Linked DNA regions of Homo sapiens: all the other regions are reported to be linked to region 1. The links are microRNA targets in miRTarBase. Many come from high-throughput screens and were not tested one by one. Region 1 holds a microRNA gene; each other region holds the end of a gene's coding sequence.

Region 1 (4,643 bases):
AGTCCCTGTTGGAGAGGGGGCGGCAGCTGGGGGTGGAGGTGCCTGAGGCCCAGCAGCTCCAGCGGCAGGTGGAACAGGCGCGATGGCTGGATGAGGTGAAACGCACACTGGCCCCCTCAGCCCGAAGGGGCACCTTGGCTGTCATGCGAGGACTGTTGGTCGCGGGTGCCAGTGTAGCCCCTAGCCCTGCTGTGGATAAAGCCCAGGCCGAGCTGCAGGAACTGCTGACCATTGCTGAACGCTGGGAGGAGAAAGCCCACCTCTGCCTGGAGGCCAGGTAGGTCCAGCTGCTGCTTCCCTTCCCTGCCCTATTCCAAACATCAAAGTTGAGTGGAGACCCAGAAGAGGATGCCCATGGGTGGCCTTAGGTATCACGCTCCTGTGTTACTGTATTGACTCTCCCCTCTTTTGTTGTCTATCTTGTCGTTTTTTTAAAAAACAACTCTGTATACTTAAAGGCAAAGAGAGGCTGATGGAGAAGCAGAAATGGACAGATAGAGATTATCTAGAAGACTAGCCCTACAGGCTAATGTGCGCATACCCAGAAGCACAAGTGACAGGCAGATGGGCAGATGTTGGTAGAAAGACCCCACACAGGGCAGTTGACAAACTGCAGCAACAGATTACACAATACAGGTTGTATATGTAGGCATTGCTAGCAGGCCAGCAGACTGGCAGACAAACAGAGGTGCAAGAGCTGTGGCAGAAGGGATGAAGTTGGGTGCATGCAGTCTTGGGGAAGCAGGGACTGGCAGCTACCCTTAGGTGGAATACAAGCAAGTAGGCCCAAGTGACAGCAGGAATAACAGACACCCAAGGGGCCCATGCAGATATATCTGGTGGTCAGGCTGGGCTTCTGGTCAGGCAGACCACATCAGACTGAGCGTTCTTTTTTTCCTTACCTTTAGGCAGAAGCATCCACCAGCCACACTTGAGGCCATAATCCGTGAAGCGGAAAACATCCCTGTTCACCTGCCCAACATCCAGGCTCTCAAGGAGGCTCTTGCTAAGGCCCGGGCCTGGATTGCTGATGTTGATGAGATCCAAGTGAGGACCCTGCCACTCCCACCCCAGGCCTTCAGTCCAGCTGGGAAGAGATGGCATATACACTGGGATGTGCTGGGTTGCTGGGATGGGTTGGGTTGGCTGGAGAGAGGAAGGGGGCATGGCATGTAGTCAGGAGGCAAGATGTGCCTGATGAGCAGGGTGAGAGGAAGAGTGTGAGGCTGGCCTGAAGGAAGAGAGGGCACTGGTTAGGATGAGATTGGTGGGCCAGGGAAGCAGGTGGTATGGGACTGAGCAGGGCAGGGGCATGGAGGAGAGGAGAAGAGGCAAACCACAACAGAAGGCTGACTAGATATTTGGGGCTGAGCCAGTCAGTAGATGCCGGTGTTGTGGGAGAGAGCCAAGTGGTTGTTCCTTAGGATGACACCTATTTTTTTAATCCCTCAAGACTGAGCCCAGTTCATCTTTCCAGCTCAGGGCCAGGCACAGAGTAAGCATCAATAGCATTGGCAAGTTGAACTGAGCTGTCTCTCGCCCTTGGCCTTAGAATGGTGACCACTACCCCTGCCTGGATGACTTGGAGGGCCTAGTAGCTGTGGGCCGGGACCTACCTGTGGGGCTGGAGGAGCTGAGACAGCTAGAGCTACAGGTACTGACAGCGCACTCCTGGAGGGAGAAGGCCTCCAAGACCTTCCTCAAGAAAAATTCTTGCTACACGCTGCTGGAGGTGAGGCCTGGGACCTTGACCTACAGCGTCTCTTAACGCCTGCCCTGGCTTCTGTGAGATGGCTCATGAGATAACATGGGTTTTGTAGGGGCACCAGGGAGGGAAGGAGGCGGGGGATGTAAGGGAAGCCCAGTCATTCCCTCTCTTGTCTGCCTGCCCCAGGTTCTCTGCCCATGTGCAGATGCCGGCTCAGACAGCACCAAGCGCAGCCGGTGGATGGAGAAGGAGCTGGGGTTGTACAAATCTGACACAGAGCTGCTGGGGCTGTCTGCGCAGGACCTCAGGGACCCAGGCTCTGTGGTAAGGAGCTTCGACACAGATGGGGAGAAGGGCTTGGTGATGATAGAGTGTCTGAGCTGGGTGGCCATGAGCAGACCGCTTGTCCCCTGAGCCTCAGTTCTCCTGGTTTGGGAGTGGGGGTGTTAAGGGGGGGCCCAGAGAAGGGAAGGGGTAGGCTGCTGACCCACTTTGCTCCTGTCCTGGGTATGGCAGATCGTGGCCTTCAAGGAGGGGGAACAGAAGGAGAAGGAGGGTATCCTGCAGCTGCGTCGCACCAATTCGGCCAAGCCCAGTCCACTGGCATCATCGAGCACGGCCTCCTCTACAACCTCTATCTGTGTGTGTGGGCAGGTGCTGGCTGGGGCGGGAGCTCTGCAGTGTGACCTGTGTCAGGACTGGTTCCATGGGCGGTGTGTGTCAGTGCCTCGCCTCCTCAGCTCTCCGAGGCCCAATCCCACCTCATCCCCACTGCTGGCCTGGTGGGAATGGGACACCAAATTCCTGTGTCCACTGTGTATGCGCTCAAGGCGCCCGCGCCTGGAGACCATCCTGGCACTGCTGGTAGCCCTGCAGAGACTGCCTGTGCGGCTGCCCGAGGGCGAGGCCCTGCAGTGCCTCACAGAGAGGGCCATCAGCTGGCAAGGCCGCGCCAGGCAGGCTCTGGCCTCTGAAGATGTGACTGCTCTTTTGGGACGGCTGGCTGAGCTCCGCCAACGGCTACAGGCTGAACCTAGACCTGAGGAGCCTCCTAACTACCCTGCAGCCCCTGCTTCTGACCCCCTCAGAGAGGGCAGTGGCAAGGATATGCCTAAGGTGAGCTACTCAGCCCAGCTCTTGTCCTCAGATTCTTGTCTCCTAGCCCCTACCCCAGTTTAGGCTCGGCCCTGCCCCTTGTTCTCCAATTTTCAGTTTTCTTTGGACCAGCCTTCCTACTCCATTCTGCATCTGTCCAGATTCCTAGACTCTGCTCCCTGCTGGCAGCCTGTGTCTTCCCTCCTCCTCCAGAAGGCGGAGGGTCTCAAGTTTGGGGTTGGCGGAGGAGGAATAGGGCCTGGTTCTTCACTTCAGTTGCCCCTACCTATTCTTGCTCTCCTCCGCAGGTCCAGGGCTTACTGGAGAATGGAGACAGTGTGACCAGTCCTGAGAAGGTAGCCCCGGAGGAGGGCTCAGGTAAGAGAGGTAGGTCTAGGTGTGGTGTGGGTAGGCTGTTGACTGCACATCACCATAGTGACCCATGTAGTCCTCAGCTCTGTTGTAGTGGTGGGGATAAGACCAAGGGCAGCCTCTAATGCCGCTTGTTCCTGCAACCTCCTAGATCTGGAGCTGCTGTCCTCGCTGTTGCCACAGTTGACTGGCCCTGTGTTGGAACTGCCTGAGGCAACCCGGGCCCCCTTGGAGGAGCTCATGATGGAGGGGGACCTGCTCGAGGTGACCCTGGATGAGAACCACAGCATATGGCAGCTGCTGCAGGCTGGACAGCCCCCAGACCTGGAGAGGATCCGCACACTTCTGGAGGTGAGGAGAGGGGTCATGGGCCGGGCCAGGAGGTCAGGCCGAGTAGGGAGCCCAGGCCTGACCACTGGCCCACAACCTGTCTTTCTGCCTGTCTGTAATCACAGCTGGAGAAGGCAGAGCGTCACGGGAGTCGGGCTCGGGGCCGGGCCCTGGAGAGGCGGCGGCGGCGGAAGGTGGATCGGGGTGGGGAGGGCGATGACCCAGCCCGAGAGGAGCTAGAGCCAAAGAGGGTACGGAGCTCAGGGCCAGAGGCTGAGGAGGTCCAGGAGGAGGAAGAGCTGGAGGAGGAGACTGGGGGTGAGGGCCCCCCTGCACCCATCCCCACCACTGGCAGCCCCAGCACCCAGGAGAACCAGAATGGCTTGGAACCGGCGGAAGGGACCACTTCAGGCCCCTCGGCCCCTTTCTCCACTCTGACTCCCCGGCTGCATCTGCCCTGCCCACAGCAGCCGCCTCAGCAACAGTTGTGACAGTGGCTGAGCCTAGCACAGACCCTGACAGAGACCCCCCTCGGCCTCAAGGATCCTCTTTCTGACCATCAAGCCTGCTTCTTGGGGGGTGGGCGGGTAGGGGGGTGGCCATCCCTGCTACCCGCCCACCCCTGAGTCCCTTGACTTTTGTATTCTGACTCCAAGGTATTGTTCAGACCTCAGCTCCTGGGGGCCGGCCCCTGGAGTCTTCCCTCCCTGGTAGCCTCTAACCAGCATTCCCAGACACCTGAGGCAGATAGATGGATGGGCTGGTGGGCAGGGGGGTGGCTGGGGCTGGGCCATCACCATTCCAGAGACAAGGCCAGTGTATATGCAAACTGGGGGACTCTCCTCCCTTCTCTCCCCAGTTCTGGTCCTGGCCAGGCCATGCTACACTAACCCCTGCCCCCACTCTCCTCCCCTCTTTTCCTTCCTTCCTACCCCCTTCTCCCTCTCCCTTCCCCTGACTGTTCCACCCAGGAGGAGGAAACTTCACATAGCCGTGCTCACAGTTTTTTATTTTAAAGGAATTTGGCTGGGGAGCTGAACAGGGCTCCCTGTGATCTGAAGAAAGCTTTTGGTGCTTGTCCTCACAACCACCTCAGTCCTCCCTCCCTGTCCTCCCCTGTCTCCTTTCCTCCTCCTGG
Region 2 (3,000 bases), not on the chromosome of region 1:
AACCTGGAGACGCCCCGTTCCGAATCCCCCGACCTCATCCTGCATGACTCCGGCGTCAGTGCCGCCCGGGCGGCGGCAGCGGCGGCGGCGGCAGCGGCGGCGGCGGCGGCGGCGGCCTCCGCGGGAGGCAAGGAAGCAGCGTCTGGCCCCAACGACTCTTAGAGGCCGGGCGAGAGGCGCGAGCACACAAGCGAGTAGAGACACCGAGAACGAACGAGAGGTTCGGAGGGCGAGCGAGCGGGAGGCGGGAGGGCAGGGGCTTCAGTGACGCCCCCAGGGCCCGGGCTGGGCGCGAGGTGGAGCCGCTCAGGGCTCCCGGGCTGCGGTTCGCCCGCTGTGCGAGGAGCTCCCCTCTGCCTTCCGCGCCCGGATAAGAATCGAACGCGTGGTCCGGAAACAAAAGCGAACCATCCTCCGACACAAACACTTTAAAAACTGTACTCCCAGACGTACACATACACCGGAGACCTACAACCACAAGCACGCACACTCGCGCGCGCACACACATACCACTCGCCCAAACTTCTCGAGCGAAGAGCAATACATAGAAAGGCTCCCTCTTTGCCCACTCTCCACCTCCCTCCAACACCCGTCTCTTTCCTTTTCTCAAAAACAAGCCACCACCCAGCAAAGGACTGTCAGAACATTTGAAAACAAACGGGACCGATAAAAACACCCTTTGTTTGGATTATATTATATATAAAATGCTCCAAGTCCTGCCTGATATCTACTTACAATGAGACTTTTTTCCTAAAAAAGGAAGCATCAAAAGGCTTAAGGTGAGAAATTAAACTGGAAGTCTAGCGACAGTTTCTCTGTATTTCATAACATCTGTATAAATAGGGTTCAAAAGATTGTGTTCTCTTTTATTTTCTTGTAAATGTTCATTCGAATAGAGTTTTTTTGGGTGAATCCCTGAAATTCAGGGAGTTTTTTTTAATTTTCTGATGCACTTTGTGAAAGTCAGTATATATGTAAAAGATATTTAAAATGTTGAGTTATCATTTCACTCACAAACACGTAAGTTAAGGTCATCTAAAGAAATTAAATGCGTTTATCTGTATCAAGAAAATCTTGACATCATATTTTCATTTTGGTATTATTAAAGGACTCTGAACAATACATTTCCTTTTTTAAAAATCCTGTTTCCCCCTCAATAACCTTTTCGTGGGTCGATTTTTTTTTCGGTTGGGAAAAAATTCCCTTAATGTTAGTTGTAGGTAATGTAAAGTTTATGTGGGTTATAAAAGCCATACTACATATACGTTTTTGAGAAGTCAAAATTATTTATTTGTATATCAACAACATAAATTAAATTGGGTTGTAAGGACGTGTAGTTGTATTACTTAATGTGAAGGCTCTCAAAAGGTGACATTTTAAAACTCTGGAGCGCCTAAAAAATGCAAAGGTCCTTGGCAGCTTTAATTGGGGAGGTGCCTAAACCTCTGGGAGGGGTCAGAGAAAACTCTGGTGGGTTTGTTTGTTTTTAAAAAGTGATTTAAAAACAACTGTGAAAGGAAAACGCTTAAAAAAAAAGAAGTCTTTTAGCTCCCAAGGCCCTGTATGTTGGAAGGCAACTCAAGGGAATAAATCGCTAGAGTCAATACCCCGGAAAAGACATTTCATGCCTAAATGAAAATCTTGTTAAATGTTATTAATTTTGACTTAGAGCACACAGCAGCCCCCTGTGCCTTGTATTCCCTTATTAGGGATTCATGTCTTATCAAATATCTAATTAATCTCCTAGACATCATTTGTTCTGGCCAACTTTATCTCAGCTGGTCCGCGGGGAAAACTCCAAATATTCTCTGTGACAAAGCTCCCTTGAAGATCTTTTTAATTGTCTAAATTAACTGCACCAAATTTGCATGTCAAACGGTAAAGGGCAACCTGAGATAAAATGTAAACGTTTTAAAAAGCCCCCAAACTAAGCACTTGATTTGATAACTAGGCTTTTTAATGTTATGGAAGACAACTGCTCCTTTCCTTTTCAAAGACGGCTGATCTATGCAAATAGTGAATTGGAAATGCCTAGGTCCCCGCGCCGTCAAATGGCCCTCGCAGGTTATTTGAATATCAGTGGCGCTGCTTCTGAAAAGGTTCAAGGATGCTCTCTGACTTCTTTGTGATTACTCAGTGCGGCGTCTTATTCTGAAGAAAAAAACTCAGGAATAATTAAAGGCTGGGATCAGGCCTGGGAACACATTTGGGACAGGAATCTCATTTAGACAGTCTCTTTCAAAATAAGGCACAGTTAAATTGACCAGAAGGCAATTATTGAAATGAAAATTATTTTCACTCTCTTTGTCTTCTGACCACCAACTTAACAGCCCCAGTTTAAAAGAGGGAGAAAAGAGGGAGAGACAAAAAGAAAATTGGTAAATGAGATAATTTCGCAATTCGAAAAAAATGTTAATTTAGAAAATAAAGTACATATTTACAGAATAAAAATATTTCTAAAAGATTTCCCACACAAGAGGAAATACAAGCGAAGTCAGCACCAACATATTTTTTTTTTCCATTTTTGATTACTGTCCGCCTTGGGAATTTGAGCGAAGATTTTGATTTTTAGGAAAGAAAAAATAAATTCTTGTTATTAACAATCAGCAAAATGTTTTCTCGGAAACTGTTCTGAAACACCAAGTCGCAAAGTAGCGATAAAACAGAACGAAGGTCCCCAGCAGGGAGTTTGCAGCGTGACATTCAATGGCTTCTTCCTTCTCCTTCTTGAGCTCCCCGCGGCCAGGCTGCCCCGCTCTTCTTACTCGAGTTTTTCTTCACTTTGGCCATTTTCTCTCCCCGATCAAGCTGTTCATAACCGGGAGCCCCCCACTCCCTAAGCGCCTCTGGTCGGGGGATGGTCTTCCGGAGAGCCGGCTGGCAGGGACGCGTTTTCCGGAGGGGCTTCGGGCCGGGGCACTGGAGGCCCAGAGGGTGCCTGGCGCGTTTGGGGGCCGCGGGCTGGCGGCGCGGAGTAGAGGGTGTGGTGGGTCTCCCCAG
Region 3 (3,000 bases), not on the chromosome of region 1:
CCTGCAAGACGTGCTTTCCCCCAACTCCAGCTGCGGCAGCTCCCTGGATGGGGCAGCCAGCCCGGACAGCTACACGGAGGAGCCCGCGCCCAAGCACACGGCCCGCAGCCTCCATCCTGCCATGCTGCCTGCCGCCGATGGAGCCGGCCCTCGGTGATGGGTCTGGGCCACCAGGATCAGCCAGGAGGGCGTTCTTAGGCTGCTGGGATGGTGGGCTTCAGGGCAGGTGGGGTGAGAATTGGGCGGCTCTGAAGCAAGGCGGTGGACTTGAACTTTCCTGGATGTCTGAACTTTGGGAAGCCTTTACTGACCCTGGGGCTGGCTTTTCTGTTTCCTGTACCAGTAGGAGATCAGAAAAATGGAGCAAAGTGGTAGGTACTTTTTGTGAAGACGGCACGGTCTTCCCTCTTCCCTCAGTCCCAAATCCTTCCCAAGTAAGAGGCTGGAGTTGTCACTGCTTTTGGCCTGGAGTTTGGGATCCCTGTCTTTCCTAAGACCTGGGGTTGTCAGCTCTCATCTGAGGCATCCAGCAGTCTCTGCCTTGCCTTTAGCCCCTCCCAAGCTGGCTGGGGTGGCCTGTGTGGCCACTTCTGTCCATATTTATAGGTACCCAATAGCTGCCCATTTCGTGAGCCCCATCTTCACCCAGGCCTATGTTGATCCATCCAGCTTGCCAGATGCTGCAGAGTCACAAGCCTCGAGGTGCCTTCTTCAGGGCCTGGTTGAAGAAGATGATCAGTGGACAGTCTGCTCTAGATGAGCTGGGCCGGAGGGTCAGGAAACCCAGTCGCCCTTACTTCTTGCCCTGGGGATCAAAGTTCTGCTTTCTCCCCAATGAGACTTGCCTTCCTAAGCCTGTGGCTGTGGAGACAATGTCTGCAGCCCTGAGAAAGCCCTGTCGGGCTTTGTGTGAAGGCAGAGAAAGGGACAATGATAGTAGAGTGATATGGAGCAAGAGATATTTTGGGCATGTGGGCTTCAACTCCTCGACATCACTGTTCATGCTGGCGAGTGAATGCCAGTGTGCTGATGGGCGTACGCTGGTGCTGAGTAGATGCGCAGCCCCATCTGTGCATTCTCCTGGATGCTTAGAGGGATTTCTTTGCTGTAAGATGTCTGTTTGCTGATGGTCTGGTCTATGTTCCGAATTGAGCACAAAACCTGTCCTATGAATGCTTTGCATTTGGAATTTTTGCTTGACTTCAGTTATTGGTGGAATCTTTAGCGCTCAATAGGACCAGGATCCAGCCTCACTTCTAGGGTATGGGAAATCCAATCAGAGACCAGGCCCTGGCTAAGACCCAAACATATGCACATTCACTTAGCAGAACCTTAAACACCCCTCAGTTGTGCAGCTTTTGGTCATCAAGGGTGCGTCTGGGAGGTTGGTTTAATGCAATAGAAGTGCTCCCCTCTGAAAGTTGTACATGAAATTTTTGTAAATCACATCCTTATCCTTCATCTTTTAAAGAAATAACCACTGCAAGTCCTTTTGTAAAGTGAAGAATCCTTTTGTAGAATGAACCACTGCCCCTTCATTGATTTCCTGTGTCAATCCAGATGGTGGGATGTGGTTTTCTTAAGGTGAGGCCTGTCTGTGACCTGCATCTAAGCCCATGGGACAAATTGCACAGAAGTCCTGTATGTCTGTCATTGTACCCTTAAGTCACCCTAGCCCTCTCCCTCTAGGCTCTGCCTTCGAGGTCAGAGGAGAGATAGCCTGTGGCCCTGTCCTGCCATGCAAGAACTCATCACTGTGGCTGTCTGGAAAGCCCCCCCTTATAGTTTGGGCTTCAGCCTAGTGGCTTGTCCTCACCATGATGGGGCCCTAATTCAGCCATGTACAGACAGAGAATATGTCTGCTCCTTTCCCCTTCCTTTTAAGTAAGGTCCAATTCTCGAGCTTGGGGCAACATTGTTCACCTTTGTAGCACTCAGGCTCTCCATTCAATTTCAGGCTCCCCAGATCATGTTTTGGTGAAAATTAGGGTTGGTTCCTTTCCAACGTTTGGAAGATCCTGTGAGGAGCCCCATCTGTCTAAAGATAGAGTCATTGCTGTAGGATCTAAGGCTGTTTGCTTCACCGTGGATTCGCTTGAGTTAGGAATGAGAAGTAGCCACAGTATGGATGGGTGGATGGGTTTTATGAGATGGATCACATATTTTATTAAGAACTCAAACTTCTGGCTCCCTCTTCTTTCAGACTTGCCATGTGACTCTGGCTTGGCCTATCTCCTAGGGCTATGGTGTGGACTGAATGGGATCATGAAAGTAGACAGTTTTGAGAACGTAAAGAACTTTTTCTTTTCCCTCAATCTCAATCCTGCAGTGGGGTTTCGCAGCCTGAGTCCACGACCTAGGCAGTAGGCCGGTGTGCCTGACTGCCCAGCATTTGGGTAATTTAGATTGTAAACCGCTTTGGCCTGAGTTATTGAGATTGTCCTCATTTCTCCAGATTATCTATTTGTGTGTGTGTGTGTGTGTGTGTGAGAGACGGTGTCTTGTTCTGTCACTCAGGCTGGAGTACAGTGGTGCCATCATTGCTGTCTGCAGCCTTGAACTCTGGGCTCAAGCAATCCTCTCACCTCAGCCTCCCGAGTAGGGAGGACCACAGGTGTGAGCCACCACACCTGGCTAATTTTTACTTTTTTTTTTTTTTGGTAGAGATGGAGTCTTGCTATATTGCCCAGGCTGGTCTTGAAGTCCTGGCTTCAGGCAATTCTCCTGCCTTTGCCTCCAGAAGCACTGGGATCACAGGTGTCAGCCATTGCACCCAGCCCAGATTGTCTTAATTTCTATCTTGTTCCAAGGCCAGGGACAGTAATAAGAATGGAAAAGAGATATGGGAACACTGGCAGACTGTGTAAAATGTAATGCAACTACCCAAAACAAGCCTGGTAGGAAAGGGCAAGTCTTTAGGTCTTTGTAAGAACTAAAGAAGATCTGTAATTTTTATTTTCACCCTCTGTACCCCATGACCTTATCCTTCCTCTCCTTCCT
Region 4 (3,000 bases), not on the chromosome of region 1:
TGGCTATTGGGAGGCTAGAATGAGATCTATATGAAAAGTTGAAGAAAAATTTTAGTACCTGTAAACATACATGCTGTTTTTTTTCTTGTGAAATGAAAGTATTCTTGTCATCTAAGTATTTCTTATTTTCAAGCATGGTTCTTGACTTAGACACATACGGTCCCTTCCAGAAGCCAGTGGTTTAGGCTTGTGGCCATGTTTCATGGGCTAGGAATGTCCAGGCAGCCGGAGTAATCTCTGTTGTTCTCTTCTAGGTATTTACCTTGCTGTGGATTGCTGACTGGATGGTCCATCACTTCTGGAGGAAAGGAAAGGACCCGGATAGTTTCTCCATCCCCTACCTAACAGCATTGGGTGATCTGCTCGGGACAGCTCTGTTAGCCTTAAGTTTTCATTTTCTTTGGCTTATTGGAGATCGAGATGGAGATGTTGGAGACTAATAAATTCTACAAACTGCTCTCAAGTTACCAAGGAAGAAAATACACGACAACCACTTATGGCTCTTTTTCAAAACTCTTAAATCAGTAGTTTGACTTTTGCCAGGGTAATCTTCAGTTGGCCCTGATTCAATTAAATGGCCTTAATTTTTTTTTAAGGAATTTGTGTCAAAACCAGAATGAAGAGTATTCGTGCTGCTTTTCATAGAATAAATGATAATTTGACATAGACATAGATATAAGTTCCAGCTCTGAAATTAATTAGGAAAGAATATAGGATGTTTACAGTGAATAATTTTAAAACCACAAACATAGCAGAAATGTACTTTATTATTAAATTTGTAATGCAGGATTAGAAGAAGCAGAGCTCTAGTTTAGCCTTTCTTGTCTCACAGATGTGCTGTATCCCAGGCATACTATAAAACGAAGAGTGCCCAACCAAGCTTTGAATCGTATTAACAATGCCCACCTCTATGCTAGCTGAGGATAAATTTACCAGTTGCTCATATTTAAACTGACCTAAATATGTTTTGCTGAGCATAAGATAAACTCACTTTTACCTCCATCTAAAATTATCCTGTTCTGATGCCAATTCAATTTCAGCTCTGCAAGTTCTTGTCAGGCTAATCTTTAAACATTGAGTGATCTTGAGAGATTGTTAATGAAAGCAGTGAGTCATTTTTTGATGATTGATTTGTTGGAAAAATGTTGATGTGTTTTAAAAAATGTAATCTTCAAAAACAGAATATAACCTGAGATGCATTTGTAGAGACAAGACGGTACGAGAATGTGTGTGTGTGTGTGTGTGAGAGAGAGAGACTTTTGATGAAGAACTAAATCTTGGATTGCTGATAGCAAAGATCATAGTGCTGTTGGAATATCAGCAATATAGAGTTATTCTTAAACACATTCTATTAACATGTTTTTGTCATTGGGTCCAAAAATTTTGCTGCTGACCAGAATTTACTATTTGTTACCTATATTCTTTTTTTTTTTTTTTTTTTTTTTTTTTGAGACAGAGTCTTGCTCTGTCGCCCAGGCTGGAATGCAGTGGTGTGATCTCGGCTCACTGCTACCTCCACCTCCTGGATTCAAGTGATTCTCCTGCCTCAGCCTCCCGAGTAGCTGGGATTACAGGAATGCGCCACAACGCCCAGCTAATTTGTTACCTACACTCTAATTAATAATTAATAATTTCTTATTTTAAAAAGTAGTACTATTTAATATAATCAAGATAGGAGATTTAAAATGAGCAAGTGATTCATTTGCTCTTTTAAAGAAGCCCGTTGACTTACGCTTTTAAAAAAGAAGTTGGTGGGTTACCTCAATTATTGTTCATGCTTAAACATATCCATTTGTACAGGCTTATTTCTACGTGGGACCCAATCATATATACTATATTTCTCAAATAATTTTTCTAAAACTCTGGCCTATATTCTAAACACTTGACCAACACCTTAGTTATTGAATAGGTAACCATTTTTAAAGTACATGTGGTTCATTTTTTAAAATTCAATCTCTCAAGACCGTTAGATATTTAATAATTTAAGCTGATAAGGGTATCAAAATGCACATTAACTTTGATCATCATGATTTAAGTTGTAACTTTGTGTTATTATATAAATATTAGGTTGTTTATAAATATATTGCAGAAAGTATTCTTGTTAAGCTCTTTTAAATGAGGGGACTGTGGTTTAGAGTTATATATTTTTGCTTATTTTTAAACTTCAATTATTCCATTCTTCTGCCTTATAATAAAACTTTTAAGGCAGAGAACTGAACTAATTATAGAATTTCTCCTTTGGAGAGTTATAATGTTACATAGTGAACATTCTTATAAAAGAAAGAATAAGTTTAAGTTGATGAATATTTAGCTGCAAAGATTTTTTACTTAAAAAAATCCATGAATATCTTTGATTTTATTATAAAGCATTTGTAAATTATTTGCATTTGAGCTGTAAGATTCATAAACATTTACATTTCCCAATGATTTCTATTTTGATTTTTAAAAAATATACAGGGCAAGCTACATTTTTAAAGCATTAATCAACAACTTTATTATATTACACATTCCAGTGCACAAACACACAATATCATTTAATACTCACAGTAGTACCTGTGAAATATATCAGATGGATATTCCTATCTCTATTTTACAGCAGAGGAAACCGAAATTCAGAGAACTTACATTTCTAAGGTTGTACAGCTGCAAAATGACCAAATTGTGAAGTCCCTAACATCCAGGTTTTCATAATGCCAGTACTCTTTCTATGACATGTTTATGACCCTCCAAATGTACCAAAACTACCTAACTAATTCACTGAGAGGAAGCCAACTGCAAAAATAGGATTTTTAAAAGTACAATAGAGTATTACTACATTTTATGGATTTCAGACAAAGAAACCTCCGTTTATTATATCCTGATGGTGAGTATTGCCAGCTCTAAATTATTCATATTTCTAAGACCAAGGAAAATATAGGTAAATGAAAATTTTGAAATAAAGAACAATGCCTTAATTTGTAAAATCTATCATTGCTACCACCCTGCCCAGGTCTGGCCATT

What was found. Region 1 holds the annotated microRNA hsa-miR-6895-3p (UGUCUCUCGCCCUUGGCCUUAG, at 1,531-1,552, shown strand). A microRNA usually pairs through its seed, bases 2 to 8, with sites in the 3' UTR of a target mRNA and lowers its output. Matches are read on the target gene's strand: a 7mer-m8 pairs with bases 2 to 8, a 7mer-A1 pairs with bases 2 to 7 and ends in A, and an 8mer does both.
Region 2: the mRNA of SP9 is a reported target of hsa-miR-6895-3p. Seed matches in the 3' UTR shown: 7mer-A1 at 197-203.
Region 3: the mRNA of TAL1 is a reported target of hsa-miR-6895-3p. Seed matches in the 3' UTR shown: 7mer-m8 at 2,489-2,495.
Region 4: the mRNA of SLC41A2 is a reported target of hsa-miR-6895-3p. Seed matches in the 3' UTR shown: 7mer-A1 at 1,205-1,211 and 7mer-m8 at 1,251-1,257.

Annotation. Positions count from the first base shown.
Region 1 is chrX:53,192,320-53,196,962 of GRCh38, reverse strand. It overlaps MIR6895 (microRNA 6895), which reads left to right and starts at 1,475; the gene lies at 1,475-1,552. KDM5C (lysine demethylase 5C) reads left to right here. Exons shown (of 26, transcript NM_004187.5): 19 at 1-277; 20 at 909-1,047; 21 at 1,553-1,732; 22 at 1,895-2,032; 23 at 2,225-2,824; 24 at 3,112-3,190; 25 at 3,327-3,526; 26 at 3,631-4,643. The coding sequence ends at 3,996.
Region 2 is chr2:174,337,379-174,340,378 of GRCh38, forward strand. It overlaps SP9 (Sp9 transcription factor), which reads left to right. Exons shown (of 2, transcript NM_001145250.2): 2 at 1-1,122. The coding sequence ends at 162. Among named protein-coding and RNA genes, the nearest start is that of SP9, 3.9 kb to the left of the region's middle. RefSeq lists an enhancer at 1,157-2,789.
Region 3 is chr1:47,216,877-47,219,876 of GRCh38, reverse strand. It overlaps TAL1 (TAL bHLH transcription factor 1, erythroid differentiation factor), which reads left to right. Exons shown (of 5, transcript NM_001290403.2): 5 at 1-3,000. The coding sequence ends at 157. Among named protein-coding and RNA genes, the nearest start is that of TAL1, 14 kb to the left of the region's middle.
Region 4 is chr12:104,802,592-104,805,591 of GRCh38, reverse strand. SLC41A2 (solute carrier family 41 member 2) reads left to right here. Exons shown (of 11, transcript NM_001352171.3): 11 at 255-3,000. The coding sequence ends at 440. Among named protein-coding and RNA genes, the nearest start is that of SLC41A2, 150 kb to the left of the region's middle.